Homo sapiens: one gene and its partner. The protein of the gene in region 1 interacts with the protein of each later gene in a biochemical or structural test. Each region holds a gene or a part of one and is shown in the gene's direction. Other genes may lie near its edges.

What was found.
Region 2: the proteins of ANKRD2 (region 1) and LDB3 interact in far-western blotting, tested with the Homo sapiens proteins (one study listed by BioGRID).

Annotation. Positions count from the first base shown.
Region 1 is NC_000010.11:97,568,795-97,575,786, forward strand, and holds the start of ANKRD2 (ankyrin repeat domain-containing protein 2), read left to right. Parts: upstream 1-3,994; coding exon 3,995-4,081; intron 4,082-6,992. Other genes in the region: UBTD1 (ubiquitin domain-containing protein 1), read left to right, coding at 1,344-1,729. UniProt on the Homo sapiens protein: Functions as a negative regulator of myocyte differentiation. May interact with both sarcoplasmic structural proteins and nuclear proteins to regulate gene expression during muscle development and in response to muscle stress.
Region 2 is NC_000010.11:86,663,867-86,671,514, forward strand, and holds the start of LDB3 (LIM domain-binding protein 3), read left to right. Parts: upstream 1-4,644; 5' UTR 4,645-4,704; exon of another isoform or gene 4,705-4,802; 5' UTR 4,803-4,825; coding exon 4,826-4,918; intron 4,919-7,648. Other genes in the region: OPN4 (melanopsin), read left to right, coding at 1-125. UniProt on the Homo sapiens protein: May function as an adapter in striated muscle to couple protein kinase C-mediated signaling via its LIM domains to the cytoskeleton.

The DNA of each region.
Region 1 (6,992 bases):
GTGACAGTGGAGCCCTAGAATCACAGACTTGAGTTTCTTTTTTTTTGAGACGGAGTTTCCCTCTTGTTGCCCAGGCTGGAATGCAGTGGAGCGATCTCGGCTCACCGCAACCTGCGCCGCCTGGGTTCAAGTGATTCTCCTGTCTCAGCCTCCTGAGTAGCTGGGATTACAGGCATGCGCCATCACGCCCAGCTAATTTTGTATTTTTAGTAGAGACAGGGTTTCTCCATGTTGGTCAGGCTGGTCTCAAACTTCCAACTGCAGGTGATCCGCCCGCCTTGGCCTCCCGAAGTGCTGGGATTACAGGCGTGAGCCACTGCGCCTGGCCACAGACCTGGGTTTCAGTCTGAATGTTTCCCTTTCCTAACTGTCTTGGCTTTAGCAAGGAGCTTCTCGAATTTAGAGCCTGACTGCCTTACGACTGTAAAGGGGAGATGATTATTAGGATTCAGTAAGATACACATAACATCATTTAGTCCAGTCCCAGCACTTAGTAGGTGCTCAAGAGACAATAAACATATTTCTCCATGCATTACGTTTTGCCAGTAAGGACACTAAGGCCCATGGAGAGCAGAGCTGTGCTATTTCATTCATCCCTGTAACCCCAGCACCTGGCACATGTGAAGAAGTGAAAAATAATATGCCAGGATGAACAAGCCAGTACCTGGTGGAGCTGGGATGCCAGCTCAGGTCTTCCTGACTCCAGCCCTGTACACCTGGTCATCAGGCTGTCCTAGGGAGATCTGACTGTGGGGTGGCCATGGCAGGTGTATTAGTCTGCTCAGGCTCCTGTAACAAAATACCACATGCTGGGTGACTTAATCAAGAGACATTTATTTTCCACAGTTCTGGAGGCTGGGAAATCCGGCATCATGGTGCTGGCTGGTTCAGGTTTTGGTGAGGACTCTGTTGCTGGCTTGCAGGTGTCCGTCTTCTTGCTGTGTCCTCACATGGGGAGCGAGTGGAGAGTGAGATAGTGCTCTAGTGTCTCTACAAGAACTGTAAGCCAGGGCAGTGGAGCACACCTGTAGTCTCAGCTGCTCGGGAGGCTGAGGTGGGAGGATTGCATGAGCCCAGGAGTTCGAGACTAGCCTAGGCAACATAGGGAGATCTTGTCTCAAAAGAAAAAAAAAAAAAGGACCATTTTTCCCATCAAGGGGTCAGAAGGTCAGGGCCCCACGCTATGACCTCATTTAACTTTATTTATTTCTGTATAGGCCCCATGTCCAAATACAGTCACATTGGGGGTTAGAGTTTCACCATATGAATTTGGGGGGACCCAAACATTTAATCCATGATAGTGGATCCCCAAGCTGACTCTGACAGCCCTGCCTCTCCTACAGGCACCCTCTGTGAATGCTACGATGAGCTGGGCAATCGCTACCAGCTGCCCATCTACTGCCTGTCACCGCCGGTGAACCTGCTGCTGGAGCACACGGAGGAGGAGAGCCTGGAGCCCCCCGAGCCTCCACCCAGCGTGCGCCGTGAGTTCCCGCTGAAGGTGCGCCTGTCCACGGGCAAGGACGTGAGGCTCAGCGCCAGCCTGCCCGACACAGTGGGGCAGCTCAAGAGGCAGCTGCACGCCCAGGAGGGCATCGAGCCATCGTGGCAGCGGTGGTTCTTCTCCGGGAAGCTGCTCACAGACCGCACACGGCTCCAGGAGACCAAGATCCAGAAAGATTTTGTCATCCAGGTCATCATCAACCAGCCCCCACCACCCCAGGACTGATGGGCCCACGGACCCCTGGGAAGAGGCCCCGCCTGGAGCACTAGGCCCCCACCCTGCTGCTGCCTTCCAGTGCTGTCATTTTCTTCAGGGGCCCTCCCCTCGGTGTGGCTGGTGGGTGAGCCGTGAAGGGACCCTGCCTTTCAGGGCACTACGCGCCACCAGTTCCCGGTACCCAGGGAGCAGGCAGCCACACACGGGCCTTGCAACCTTGTCAGAGAAAAGGCGAACAGGGCCCTCACCCTGCCTGTCTCCCGAAGCAGGTTCGAGCCACAAGGGCCAACCAGGAGGCCCCTGGAGCCCAGATCTGTCATCTGGTGCTGCCAGCTGTGCTCACTCTGGTTTTCTGCTCAGGGTCTGAAGCAGCTGCTGTCTCCCTCCTCTGCCCCCATCCCCTGGCTCTCCCCTGGGCACAGTGCCACTCCCTTGGAAGGGAGGGAACCACCCGTGAGCCCCAGGGCTTGGGAAGCCTGAGGCGGGCCTCTGCCTCTCCCTGCCCCCAGCACAATTGGCAGAGATGAGGCGGGTGGTGGACAGCTGGGCTGTCGTGGCAGGGTCTGCACAGGGCCATGTCCTGGCTGTAACCCAGGCAGTGGGAGGTCTGCAGCCTGGTCATGGCCTCCACAGCAGGTCCCTGTGGACAGACATATCTGCATATTTATCAATAAAGCCTTTTGCTCCTTCTCGCTTGCCTGGCATTTGACTGAATTCTCCTGCAGCTCTGTGGGGCCCCTGGAGCTGTTCTGGTATGGGAACAGGTGGATGCCTGGCCTCCCCAGCTGCTCTGGGCATGCAATCTCCAGCAGAGTGAGCCTGGAACTGCCAGTCTTCTGGGCCCTGATCCCAGCTCCCCTGGTGTCCTCATGAGTCCTCAGGAAAAGCCACTCTTTGCTTTTCTTTAAAGCAGAGCCATGCTGCCTGCCCTGCCTCCTCCATCAGTTGCTGGGAGGATTAAGCAGGAAGACAGATGTGAAAGTGCTTGCAAGGCGAAGACAGCACCTCAGGAAGGTGGTCTGCTCCTGCAGCAAGAGGGGCTAACTTCCGGCCCTGGAGACGCTGTAGCCATCGTGATGTTAAAGCAAAATCTCTGACAGATTTAGATCGTGTGTCAGAGGTTTGTGTCAGCTTCCCAGCAAGGGAACCAGAAAGGAAAAGGAACCGGTTCCTCATGCTTCCTAGGGGAATGCATGCATATCTGAAGAGAAGGGAATCTTATATAAGGCTGTTTAGCTAAGGGCAGCCACCAGCCAGGTGAGCCTTACAGAAGCACAGGGCTGGGTGTCTGCAGTTCCCTAGCAGATTAACCTGGGTCACAGTGACTCAGAGCTCCAGCATGCGAGTTCCAGGTGTGGAACTGAGCAAGTACAGATCTGCTTTTGCTCCACTTGGGAGTATTTTTCCTTCTTAGTGAGCATGGGCAGCCTCCTGGCCAGGGAAGTCTGGCACTGTCTGGGCCTGACAGGGAAACCCTGGGAGGGTAGAAGGATCCAGAGTAGCTGCTGTTCCTCGCTAGCTGGGCTTAGTGCTTTCCGGAGACCCCTTTCTTGAAGCAAGACTCTGTAAGCCCTGCAGAGGTCCCCTGAGCACTTACCAAGAGAGGAGACAGATTGGATAAGGTTTGTTCATGACTAAAAGTCACCCAGCCAAATGCAGTGATGCTTAACGGGGAAGCATGTGGGACCCCGGAGAGCCGAAGGCCAGCGTGAGCTGTGATCAGAGAGGGAGACAGCTGCCCTTCCTGCTACCACGGCCCTGGCCTGGACAAGTAGAGTGTGACCCTCCTCACAGCCAGCAGGGCCTGTCTGCAGGACAGCCTGGGAGTACAGAACTGTCCTGGGTCCCCCGTTTGGTTTTCAGGCCCTCTTCCTGGAGCTGGCTGAGCAGGGTTTCCAGGCATCCAGCAGGTGGCACTGTCATCTGGGCTGGAGCATGCAGCCAGCAGTTCCCTTTTGCAACTCAGTTGCCTTGGCTAAGGCCCAACCAGTCCCAAGTGCTCAGGACAGAGGCTGGACGGGCTCCTTCCTGCACCCCTGCTCTTGGGACACAGTGCCCTCCGGCTCTAATAGGCCAGGAGTTGGGGGGGCAACTGGCTCTGCTCCCTGGCCCTGGCTCCCCCTGCTCCCTGGGGCTGCCCGAGGTGAAGGTGACAGGTGGGGGAGGCAGGTGGAGAATTGGGCCAGTGAGCTCATGGCAAAGGCGCCCAGCTGGGCAGGGGTGGGTGCTCTGGCCTATAAAGCCCCCGAGGCCCTGTGGCCTGCAGAGGCGGTTATGGACGGCACCATGGAGGACTCCGAGGCGGTGCAGAGGGCCACAGCGCTCATCGAGCAGCGGCTGGCACAGGAGGAGGAGAATGAGGTGCGAGCAGGGGTGGAGGTGCCCAAGGGGGTCTGAGGAGATCCAGTTCTGCTGTCAAGGGGAGGGAGATCCTGTCTGCTACACCTGTGGTGGGGAGGGGGGCAGATGTCCCCAGGGGCCCAGTTGGGCCTCATTCCTGTCCCAGGGTATTACTGGCAGGGGGTATTGCTGGCAGCAGAAGACTGAGGCTTCAGCCTTCAAAATTAAGTCAGTGAGATGGGGAGCTGGGCTGGGCTTCCTAAGACTGCTCACCCTCCTGGGCCTTGAGAGACAGTGGGCTGTACAAAGCAGACAGCTGGGTGCTGCCTGGGACTTTCAGGAATGTGTGGCCCTGTGATGCCCCAGTGACTGAGTGGGAGGCTGGGGCAGGGGAAACTCCAGTATTTGGCCAGTGAAGAAGAGAGTGAGGAAGGGATGCTGGGAAATGAAGCATGGATTTTGCCAGCCTGCTGGCCACCCTTGGGGAGTCCTTTGGCGTGTGGTGTTCTGGGCAATTGCATTTTCTCTGGGATAAGGAAGTGGAGCGGTGGCAGGGGGTGCTGGCTTGTCCTATTCTGCATTTTTTTTTTTGAGACGGGGTCTCCCTCTGTTGCCCAGGCTGGAGTGCAATGCATGATCTTGACTCACTGCAACCTCCGCCTCCTGGGTTCAAGCGATTCTCCTGCCTCAGCCTCCCGAGTAGCTGGGATTACAGGCATGCACCACCATGCCTGGCTAATTTTTGTATTTTTAGTAGAGATGGGGTTTCACTCTGTTGGTCAGGCTGGTCTCAAACTCCTGGCCTCAGATGATCCACCCACCTTGGCCTCCCAAAGTACTGGGATTACAGGTATGAGCCACCATGCCCGGCCCCTACTCTTCACTTTATTTAAACTAATACTTCATCTAGTGTTGGCTCTGCCAAGAGCCCAGAGCTGTAGAAATGGGTGGACCAATAAGGGTCAGACCCTGCCTTCTTTTTACCAACCCAGGATTCATTTTAGCCCATTTGTTGGTTTCATAGTCAACTAAGAAACAAGGCAAAGGGAAGAAATGACTAAATAGAGGTGTGAATCAGAAGTGGAGGAACACAAGGGGCTCATGAATTGTTCTGAGGGCCTTCAAGGACTCCTCTGTGGACAGGGCCAGGTGCAGTGGCTCAAGCCTGTAATCCCAGCATTTTGAGATCTGAGATCCGAGGTGGGCAGATCACTTGAAGTCAAGAGTTCGAGACTCACCTGGCCAACATGGTGAAATCCTGTCTCTACTAAAAATACAATTAGCCAGGAATGGTGTCAGGCACCTGTAATCCCAGCTACTCAGGAGGCTGAGGCAGGAGAATTGCTTGAACCTGGGAGGCGGAGGTTGCAGTAAGCCGAGATCGCACCACTGCACTTCAGCCTGGGTGACAGAGGGAGACTCCGTCTCAAAAAAAAAAAAAAGGGGACTCCTCTGTGGACAGGAGGATACCTGAGCTGGGCCTTCAAGGGGACTCAGTGGAGTCCAGGATGGTGGAGGGTATTCCAGCCTCAGGAAATGCAGGAGCTGAAGTTTCCATGAGTGAAAGCGTGGCTGTCTTGATAAAGTCTGGTAGTAGGGGCTAAGGCTGGAAAGACACAAGCCAGAGAGGGCCATGTAAAAGATATTTATTCTGTGGGCAGTGAGGAGCCACTAAATGTTATTGAGTGAGGGAGATTGGTGTCATCTGACCTATTTTAGGAAAGCAGCTCTGATGGCCCTGAGAAGGACTTGTTGGAAAAGGCTGGCCCTAGCAGGAATGGAGGGGAGGAGATAAATCAGGTTGGAGGTAGATGCCATTCAAAAAAAGGAGTGTGACTGAATGAGGGGTGAGGAGGAAGGAAGGGTCAAGACCCCAAGGGAAGAAGGGATGAGGTCAGGAAAGAGCTTGGAATGAGCCCTGGCTGGGGCAAGCATCCCTGGATCTCTAGGAATCCCACTTCTCCCTCCCCCAAGGGCATGTGCCTATGGTTGGCTGGTGCCAGGCAGGTGAGTCATGCTGCTATGCCAGTTCTGGAGTGCTGCCAATAGACACACAGACCTTCAGCAAGGGGACGCAGAGCAGTGTCTTCCGTTCATTCATCCAATAAATATAGCTACAGAGCTGTCAGGACACCAGTGCCAGGCCCTGTGCTAAGCATTTTACAGGCATTCTCCCATTTAATCTGCATAGCAATCTATGACGTAAAGTGGGAGCTTTGTGTGTTTCATGAACTCACATTCAATGCAGCAAACAGCTACTGAGCACCTACTGTGTGCCAGCCCACAAAGACAAACCTGAAATGAAGGGCTGTAGGGTCTGAGGAAGATGTGGGTGAGCATTAGAGTCCCCAGTTGTCTCTACCAGGCCCCAGCCTGGCAGGGTTCTTGGAGGAGAACCTCTGTCTAGCCTGTGCCCCATCCCCAGGGTGGGAGGGGAAAGAGGGCCCCAGAGGCCAGTGCAGGGGCTGGAGTTCCACTGTGGCGAGTTTACTGGGTTAGGTCATCACTGAGAACTTAAGGGTTAGCAGAGATGCTGAGTCTGCTTGCCATCATCCATTCGATCATTCATTCATTCACCAGTCACTAAGCACCTACTATGTGCTAGAGCCTGTCACAGATGCTGGGGACACCAAGATGATTAAGACACAAGCTCGGGAGCCACAGTGGCTCAGGCCTGTTGTCCTGGCGCATAAGGAGGCAAGGCTAGGCATTTGAGGCCAGCCTGGACAACATGGAAACCTCTCATCTATGTGACAACAACAACAAAATTTATAGCCGGGTGCAGTAGCTCACGCCTGTAATCCCAACACTTTGGGAGGCCAAGGTGGGCGGATTGCCTGAGCTCAGGAGTTTGGACCAGCCTGGGCAACATGGTGGAACCCTGTCTCTACTAAAATACAAAAATAATTAGCCAGGCGTGGCGGCATGCGCC
Region 2 (7,648 bases), about 11 Mb from region 1:
GAGGCCAGGAAAGAGAGACTTGTTCTCATGGGCAGGGGCGATATCCTCCAGGAATCACCTGCTCCCAGCACCTCCCAGCTTTTCCTTGTCTGCCTGGGGTTCTCTGTGACTCTGAGATGCTCTGAGCAGGGCCTGCATATGGTCTGCACATGTGTGTGTGTGTGTGTGATCATGCAACTCTGACTCTGCATGGTGCTGTTGGCTGTGCTGTGGCATGATAAGAGTACATGTGTGTGTTGATGAGGGTAGGAGGTCTGCAGCCGTCAGAGCATAGCTCGAGCATGTGTGTGGCCATGTGCCCAGCACATGCTCCATCACTGTAGCACCTGGCACATGCTCTGTCACTGTAACACCCAGTGACACGTGACTAAGCATGCCCTAATGTGTCTGCTTTAAGCTGTGCATGTGACTGAGTGTGGGTGGTATGTACCTCTCTGTGTGACTGCGAGGTTGGACATACCTGGGGAGGAAGGGGCTGTAAGCTGTGGATGTGCTCACCATAAATGCCCTAAGATCAGGATGTCACCCGGAATACTTGTGGCTATTAAAAGAAGGCCAGCTGTCGGCCCAAGTGCCTATGGAACGGAATGTTGATGGCGATTAGAGAAGGCCATATTCTGGAACACTGGAAATGTCGTGTGCACAGGCTCCCAAGCAGCCCTTCGCCCCAGCTGACAGCTCCCCATCTGCCCCTCCTGTCACACCCACACAACACCCTCAGCTCAGCTCCTGGGCTCTCTCCAGCTTCCCTAGCTAGTCCAAGGCCAAAGGCACATTCCTGCCTGCCTTTCTTCCTGAGTGCTGTGCCCCTGTGCATCCAAGAACGAAAGCCCTGGGCTGTACCTGCAGTCGGGGAGCCTCAGCCTCCCTCAGCATTCCCCCCGGGGGCCCCGCACCCTGTCCTGGAGCCCAGGCACTGTGCATGCCATAAACGCCAGGACAAAGGCCTGGCAGTGACCCCCAGGCTGGCCAGGCACTGATGAAAGACACAGTGCCTGTCTTGGAGGGATAGGCTCAGGGGGGTTGCTGGGCAGCCATCAACAATCACCAAACACATGTGATAAGCGCTGCCATTGAGGTGTGAGCACGCAGGGTACTGAAAGCAGAGGCAAGTCCCTGAGGTTCCCCAGGAAGATAGAGGTGAAGCAGGGATCTGCAGGCAGCAGGGGTGGGGAGTGGGGGGAGCACTGAGCTGTCCAGGATGAGGATACAGCCTGTGTGACTGTGCAAACACAGGGGCACAGGGGAGGGAGCTCAATATGTCCTGGAACAGGATGTCTCTCTGTGACCCTGGGAGCAGCCAGAGGGACCCTGGGGATTGGCAGTGGGGGACATAGGAGAAGGGAAGAGGAGGCGGAGGTGGTAGGAGCAGTGGGAAGGCCCCATCAGGGACTGGCTTAGGTGTCTCCAGACCTGACCTGGGGACAGGAAGCCCTGGGAGGGGGTTGGTTAGCTTTGCAGGGTGAAGACCAAAGAAGGAAGTGCTGCAGGGCAGGAAAGGGATGACCCATTTAAGGACAGCAGGAGCGGGGGTGATGCCAGAGTCTCCACATGTGGAAGAGAGGAGCGGATTGGATGGTGGGGGTGAGGATGGGTTCAGTTGTGACCCCGGGAGTCAAGAGCCCGGGGAGCATCCCAGGAGATGCTCTGTAGGCAGCGTTAGGCGTTACCAGCTCTTACTCTGGGATGTGGACTCTGGGAAGGCCCATCCCTGACCCAGGACACAACCTGGCCCTTCCATGCAACCTCCCCCACTGCTCGGTGACCCAGTGTGTGGAGGGTCATCGGGAGACTGCCCCCAGTGAACTGCTCCTCAGCTAAACAGATGTGTGCTGTTTGTTTGCAGACCAAGGGGCTGATCCCCAGCCAGGACCCCAGGATGTAGGACGCCCACTGGCTCTCCCTTTCTTCTGAGACACATCCAGCCCCCCCACGTCTCCCTCATATACACAGACCCAGGATTATGCTGTGAGCCTGCAGGCTTTGGAAGTGGCCCTGTCACCCGTGCTGCACGGGATTCACAGCCCCAGCCCCATGGCCCCTCTCCACACCTCAAAACTCCTGCCCCATAACGTCCTCCGCATCCACTTTCCAGCTCAGCAGCCGCACCCGAGGCTCAGCCTGAGGGGTATGTGCCCAGGCCCTCCCACTTCCCGAGTTGTCTGCCTCTCCTCAAATGCTGTGTGCTGCAATTGTCCAGGCGATGACAATGGTGATGGCTCCAGAGAACACACCAGCTATTTATGAGCCTCTGCCCCCAGGCTGGGCCTGTCACTGGCATAGGAAGGCCAGCCCCGCATCTCCCACTGCCAACAGCTGAAGCCGAGCACAGACCTCCCTTTGCACGCTGGAACAGTTACTCACCTGTGGCTTCTTCCCCCAGTGTACCGTTCCACTGTGGCCCACATTCTTGTGCACGCGGGCATTTGCAGGCACGCTCTCGCGTAGTTACCTATCTGAATGCACACCAAGCACATGCGTGCACACTCTGCGTCTGTGATTCATTTCATGTAGTGGTCTAAGCTCCTCCCAGGGCTGTGTGGATCTGACAGGGTATAGGAAAATAAAAAGCGGAGAAGGTGTCTTCAGACAAATATGGTCTCTACGTGTTGGTGCTGCTATGGGAGAGAGAACCAGGGCCTGGCCTCTGATGCCTCCAGCAACTTCACTTCCTCTCCTTCCTCTGTCCCCACTCTTGGGACTCTCACTCTGAGGCCCACCTCAAACTGCAAGGAGTACAGCAGAGAAGGGACAAAGGCCAGGCTGGCCTCCATCCCCACTCACTCCCCAGTGAGCCATTGAACTCCGCCCAGACCATGGGTACCAGCTGCTCTCTGACTGGCTTCACATCTCCCGAGGGAGGCGGATGGAGGGAGGCCGGCCTTCGCCTTTAAGAGCACTCTCCTGCCACCCCTCCCTTTCCCCAGAGGCGAGCTTCATCAGGCAGGAGCCAGAGGCCAGAGAGACAGCGTGCAGCTCCAGGTACAGCCTCCCCCAGCTCCCTGGCCCTGAGGGTGGGTGCCTTCCTTCTCCCACACTGGTTATGCCCTGCTGCTGAGTCCTCCCCAGCCTGGCAGGATGGACAAACACCCCTAGGAAAGGGCATAAGGCTGGAGTTAGGGATGAATGACATGGGGCTTTGCAGAGAGGGATAGGGAATGGTATGGGGAAGGGATGCTGGCCATGGACTGCTGGCCTCCTGGGCTGGGCTGCATGATATAGGGTGAAGGAAGTGATTAAGCAGGGAAAAGGACACAGGTCTTTTCCTGACTTCTTCCACTTGATAGTTTTGTGACTTTGGGCAAGTGACAAAACAACCCCGTAATATGGGTGATCCTACCTTGTACCTTGCATGTGCCAGGCCCCAGGAGTGAGGCTAGAAGCTGAGAAATGACTCACACCCAGGCCTCTACTGACTCCTCAGGGTCCAAGCCAGACCCCTCCAAGAGGGCCAGCAAGCAGCCAACCCAGTTGCCTCCCCTGAGCCTCAGTTTCTCCAACCAAGGAGCCAGGGTGGGCCTTGATCTATCTCCAGACCACATAGGGGCCTGAGGTCTTTCTTGGGGAAGGGGTTGGCCCAAAGACCGCACTGGCAGAAGTCCCAAGGTGCTGAGGCCCCCATCCAGAACACACTGTCTCTGGGGTACAGGCTGAACATGCCACACGTGCTTCCCCCTCCCTGCCCCTCCTGGCCCTGTGTCTAGCAGCTGAGCAAATGGCGTCTCCTCCCTTCTCCCTGCCCCCTGCCATTCCTGCGCAAAGGGCACGGGGCCTGGCGTGTGGCACTGGCAGCTGGAGCTTTCCATGCTGCCGTCAAGTTTTCCAGAGCACAAAGACAGGAGAGCCAGGAATAACTGGCTGGGCCCCCAGAGGGTCTGGAGGGGATGGGCCTGCCTCAGACCTGCTTTCAGACCCTATGCCAAGGGGTGCAGGCAGAGGGCCAGCTGCCCAGGACCAGGGCTTTGGGAGGCTTCTGTGGCTACTGGGAGCCCATTATCTGGCATGCATTCTGTAGGAATCAGCCCAGGCTCCAGTGTGACCTGGGTCCACTCCTTGTGTGACCTTGGAGAAGTCATTTAACCTCCCTGAGCTTTGTCTCCTGCGGGCCCAGGTGGCAGCTTCTCAGGATCCCAGGGAGTGAAGGGCCCATACTGAGGTTGGCTATGCCCAGAGCTGCTGTTATGATGATCGTTTTTATGGCTGGACAACCCTGGGCCAGTCACAGACCAGCTGGAGGCTCAGCTCAAGCCAAGGCACCTCCAGGGCCCCATACTGGATAAAGCACAACCCCAGAATCCTGGCCAGGGACCACACGGCAGCAAAGCCCCTACCCAAGGGAGCTCAGCCCCTGGTCTTCTGAGCAAGAGGATGGGTACCACTGGGCAGGAAGAGCGAGTGTCTACGCTCTCCAGAGGACACAGGAGCAAGGAGACCAGAGCATTCTCACCAACCAGGCCAGTTCCCCTTCCTCCCCCCTGGGGGGTGCTGGGTGCCGGACACCCCTCCCCAGGGGCTATATTAGCCGTGTGAGTCATGGTGGACCGGCTGGGAGGCGGCAGGCTGGCAGGCACAGTGTAGGGTTACAGTCCATTTATGGGCGCAGCCGAAGGCAGATATCAGTGTCGATGGCATTCGCTCCCAGCTATTCTTAGGAGCCTCTCAAGAGCTCCACGCAGCCCGGCTGGGCAGCAAGGGACAGAACAGGCAAGGCTGGGGGTCAGGGGCAGGGGCAGAGGTGTGGACCGGGCAGGCGGAGTGCCTGAGTGCCCTCTCACTCAACCCTCTCTACCCTTTGTCTGCAGAGGCGGCCGCTGACAGCACCAGCATGTCTTACAGTGTGACCCTGACTGGGCCCGGGCCCTGGGGCTTCCGTCTGCAGGGGGGCAAGGACTTCAACATGCCCCTCACTATCTCCCGGGTGAGTGCACCCTGCCACAGCCTGGCACCCGATGGGGCAGGCACGCTTGGAGGAGGGCATGTGTGTCCGTCTGTCTGTCTGTCCTTTCTGAGCCTCTCAGAAAGCAGAGCATGCCCCATCCCCTGGGACTGGCCTGGTCCTCTGGTCTCAGCCACAGCTGTTTGCTCACTGGAGCGCGCCGGCCTGTTATGCATGTGAGACATCATGAGCAGGTGGTAGGTGTTTTTAGCAGAGAAGAAAATGCTGAGTTTTCAGGCAGGCAGGCAGGCAGGCAGGCAGGTAGCTGGACAGAGAGTACAGCACCTTCCTGATCCCTTTACTGTTAGAGTGGGCTCAGGGTGCCCCCAAGCCTTGAGCATTTCCCTAGATATGGGCAGCTGCTTTGGGAAGGGAGTATTCCCAGCATGGAGAGGGCAGGTGATGGGCAGTTGGATAGATGGACAGACAGACGGTTGACCTTGGCTGCCCAGCTGTCAGAGTGTGGGGCTGGGCTGGACTGAGTACTGGGCACCTGCTCCATCCCAAACTTGAGACACCAAGACCCTGGCTCATGGGGCTGGGCGCTTCTCCCCATTCACCATGGCTGCTTTGTCTGTCTCAGGTCTTGTTCCCCACAAGTGCTGGGGCCTGGTGAGATGGCCCCCTATCCTGCAGTGTCTGTGATGGGGAGCAGCATGGCCTGATGCAGATGACACAGAACATCAGGGGTTGTCTGAGTAACTCTACCGCCTGGCTGGAGACAGCAACACCAGAGAGGCAGAAAGTTAGCCATGCTCCTGAGGAAGCACTCCAGGAGCAGGGACTGATGGGGGAACAGCCCCCAGACCGTAGTAGGCACTCCGTCAGTTTCTGTCAAACAAAGAGACTCCCCAGCAAGGCACTGGTAGACCCAGGGCTGAAGGCCCCAAGGCTCAGGGCGAACTGTGAGGCATACAGGGCAAGGACAACCCTGCCTGGTGGCTGAGCCCCTGACCGTGCTGTTCCGGGCACAAGGCCAGAGGGGGAGGCCCCCAGTCTGTCACTGGAGGGTGGTAGGTAGGCAGGGGTATCTGGGCTACTGCCCACCAGGGGAACAAGGGGACAGTTTCTTCTCTGGGGCCTTAAGGACTTGCCTTGGGCCTGGGGGCTGGAGGAAGGGGTTGGAGGGGAAGCACTGAAGTGGGCAAGGCCTGAAGGGGCTTGGCAGAGGGGCCAGGGAACCTGGGCAGCGGGTCAGGAGCCAATGCCCCCAGTGGAGGAGTAATCTTTTTTTTGTTCCACGGGTACTTGAGGGGACCCCAGAAGTAGAAGCCCCACCCAGGGATGCCGTGAGAGCCTTATAATAGCCATAGAGGCCACATGCTTACAGGAGGGGTGCTGGCCTGGCTCTGGTGCAGGGAACAGGCCCTGACCTCCATCCTTCAGTTGCAGATGTGGCTTGTTCTAACCTGGAGATTCCACCCCTCCAGATCTACTGCCCTGGAGACCACAGGGTCCTGGGCACCCACAGCCTTGCACACTTTGCATGAGGTGGTGACCTGTGAGCATGTGAGCCCCAGTGGATTTCCCACTGCCCTTTCCCACAGCTCCCCACCCCCATGCTTGCAGGACTCCTTCCTGTATAAGGTGGAGCCTCTGTGTGCTCTCTCATGGGCCCTGTGGCCTCCCCTGCCTGGGACTGAGCCCACATCTCCCCCAGCTCCACCATCTCGAGGCCTCCTGCTGGTGCTCCCTGCCCTATCCCTATGGGTGCAAATTGGCCACTGGGCTCAGTGGCACTCAGGATAGCCAATGACCTCACCCAGGGTCTATGTGCCACCTGGCCCCGGCCAGCCAGGGGCTTAAATGGCAGCCCAGAAGCCTTAAGCTAGATAGCAGGAGGAATGTCCTTACTCTGGGGAGGGGGTATGCAGGGATGTGCTGGATCCAATGACTGTGGGGACTTCTAAAAATAGAACCCGAAGCTCGGGCAGGGCACCGGGGGATGGGCATGATATGGCCTCTCGGCTTCCTTTAGGGGCATACCCCAAATCACCTAAGCCGCGGAGCAGGCTGGACTGGGTACTGGAGCCTTCCCCAGGGCTCGGAGCCTCTTGAGAAATTTTGGTGGTAGGCTGCTGATAGCCTGGGCTTGTGTCCTGGTTCAGTGCCGCTGGCAGGGCAGGCCTTGTGGACACAGCCCTGCCATCCCACCAGGGCTGTAGGATTTACTGCCGGGGCTCGCAGGGCCCTTCTGCACCAGGGACATCCCCCTACGGGGGAGGCATGGCCAGAGCTCTCTGGAGGAACCCCACTCCCACCCCAGCCAGGACCTGAGCCTGTGCCATAGGGCACCAGAGGCAAGAGTGTGTGACCCTGTGGGGTGGGCAGGCAGGCGAGGCTGGGATCGTTACCTCGCTTCAGAGCCTGGCAAACTGAGGCTCGAGTCTGCTCACAGGACAGGGATGTCCATGGGTGGATCTCCTGTATCCTGTCACCCCTAACTCCCATGCTGGCTTGCTCACCCCTCTAACTGGGACTAATAGAGAGGCACTGGGGAGGGTCTGTCCCCTCTCAGCTGCAGGTGTGTGCTGCAGCTCCTCCTGGAAGGACACAGGCCACCTGCAGGCTGGGTGGTGGCTCCCGGGGGCTCATGGCAGCAACTTTGGGGCAGCAGCAGCCCCTCAAGGCATCCCTTCATAGGGTCTCTGCTTGCAGACCCACAGAGAAGGGAGTTCAAGAGGGAGACTGGGAAAGGAGGGTGGCGGGGAA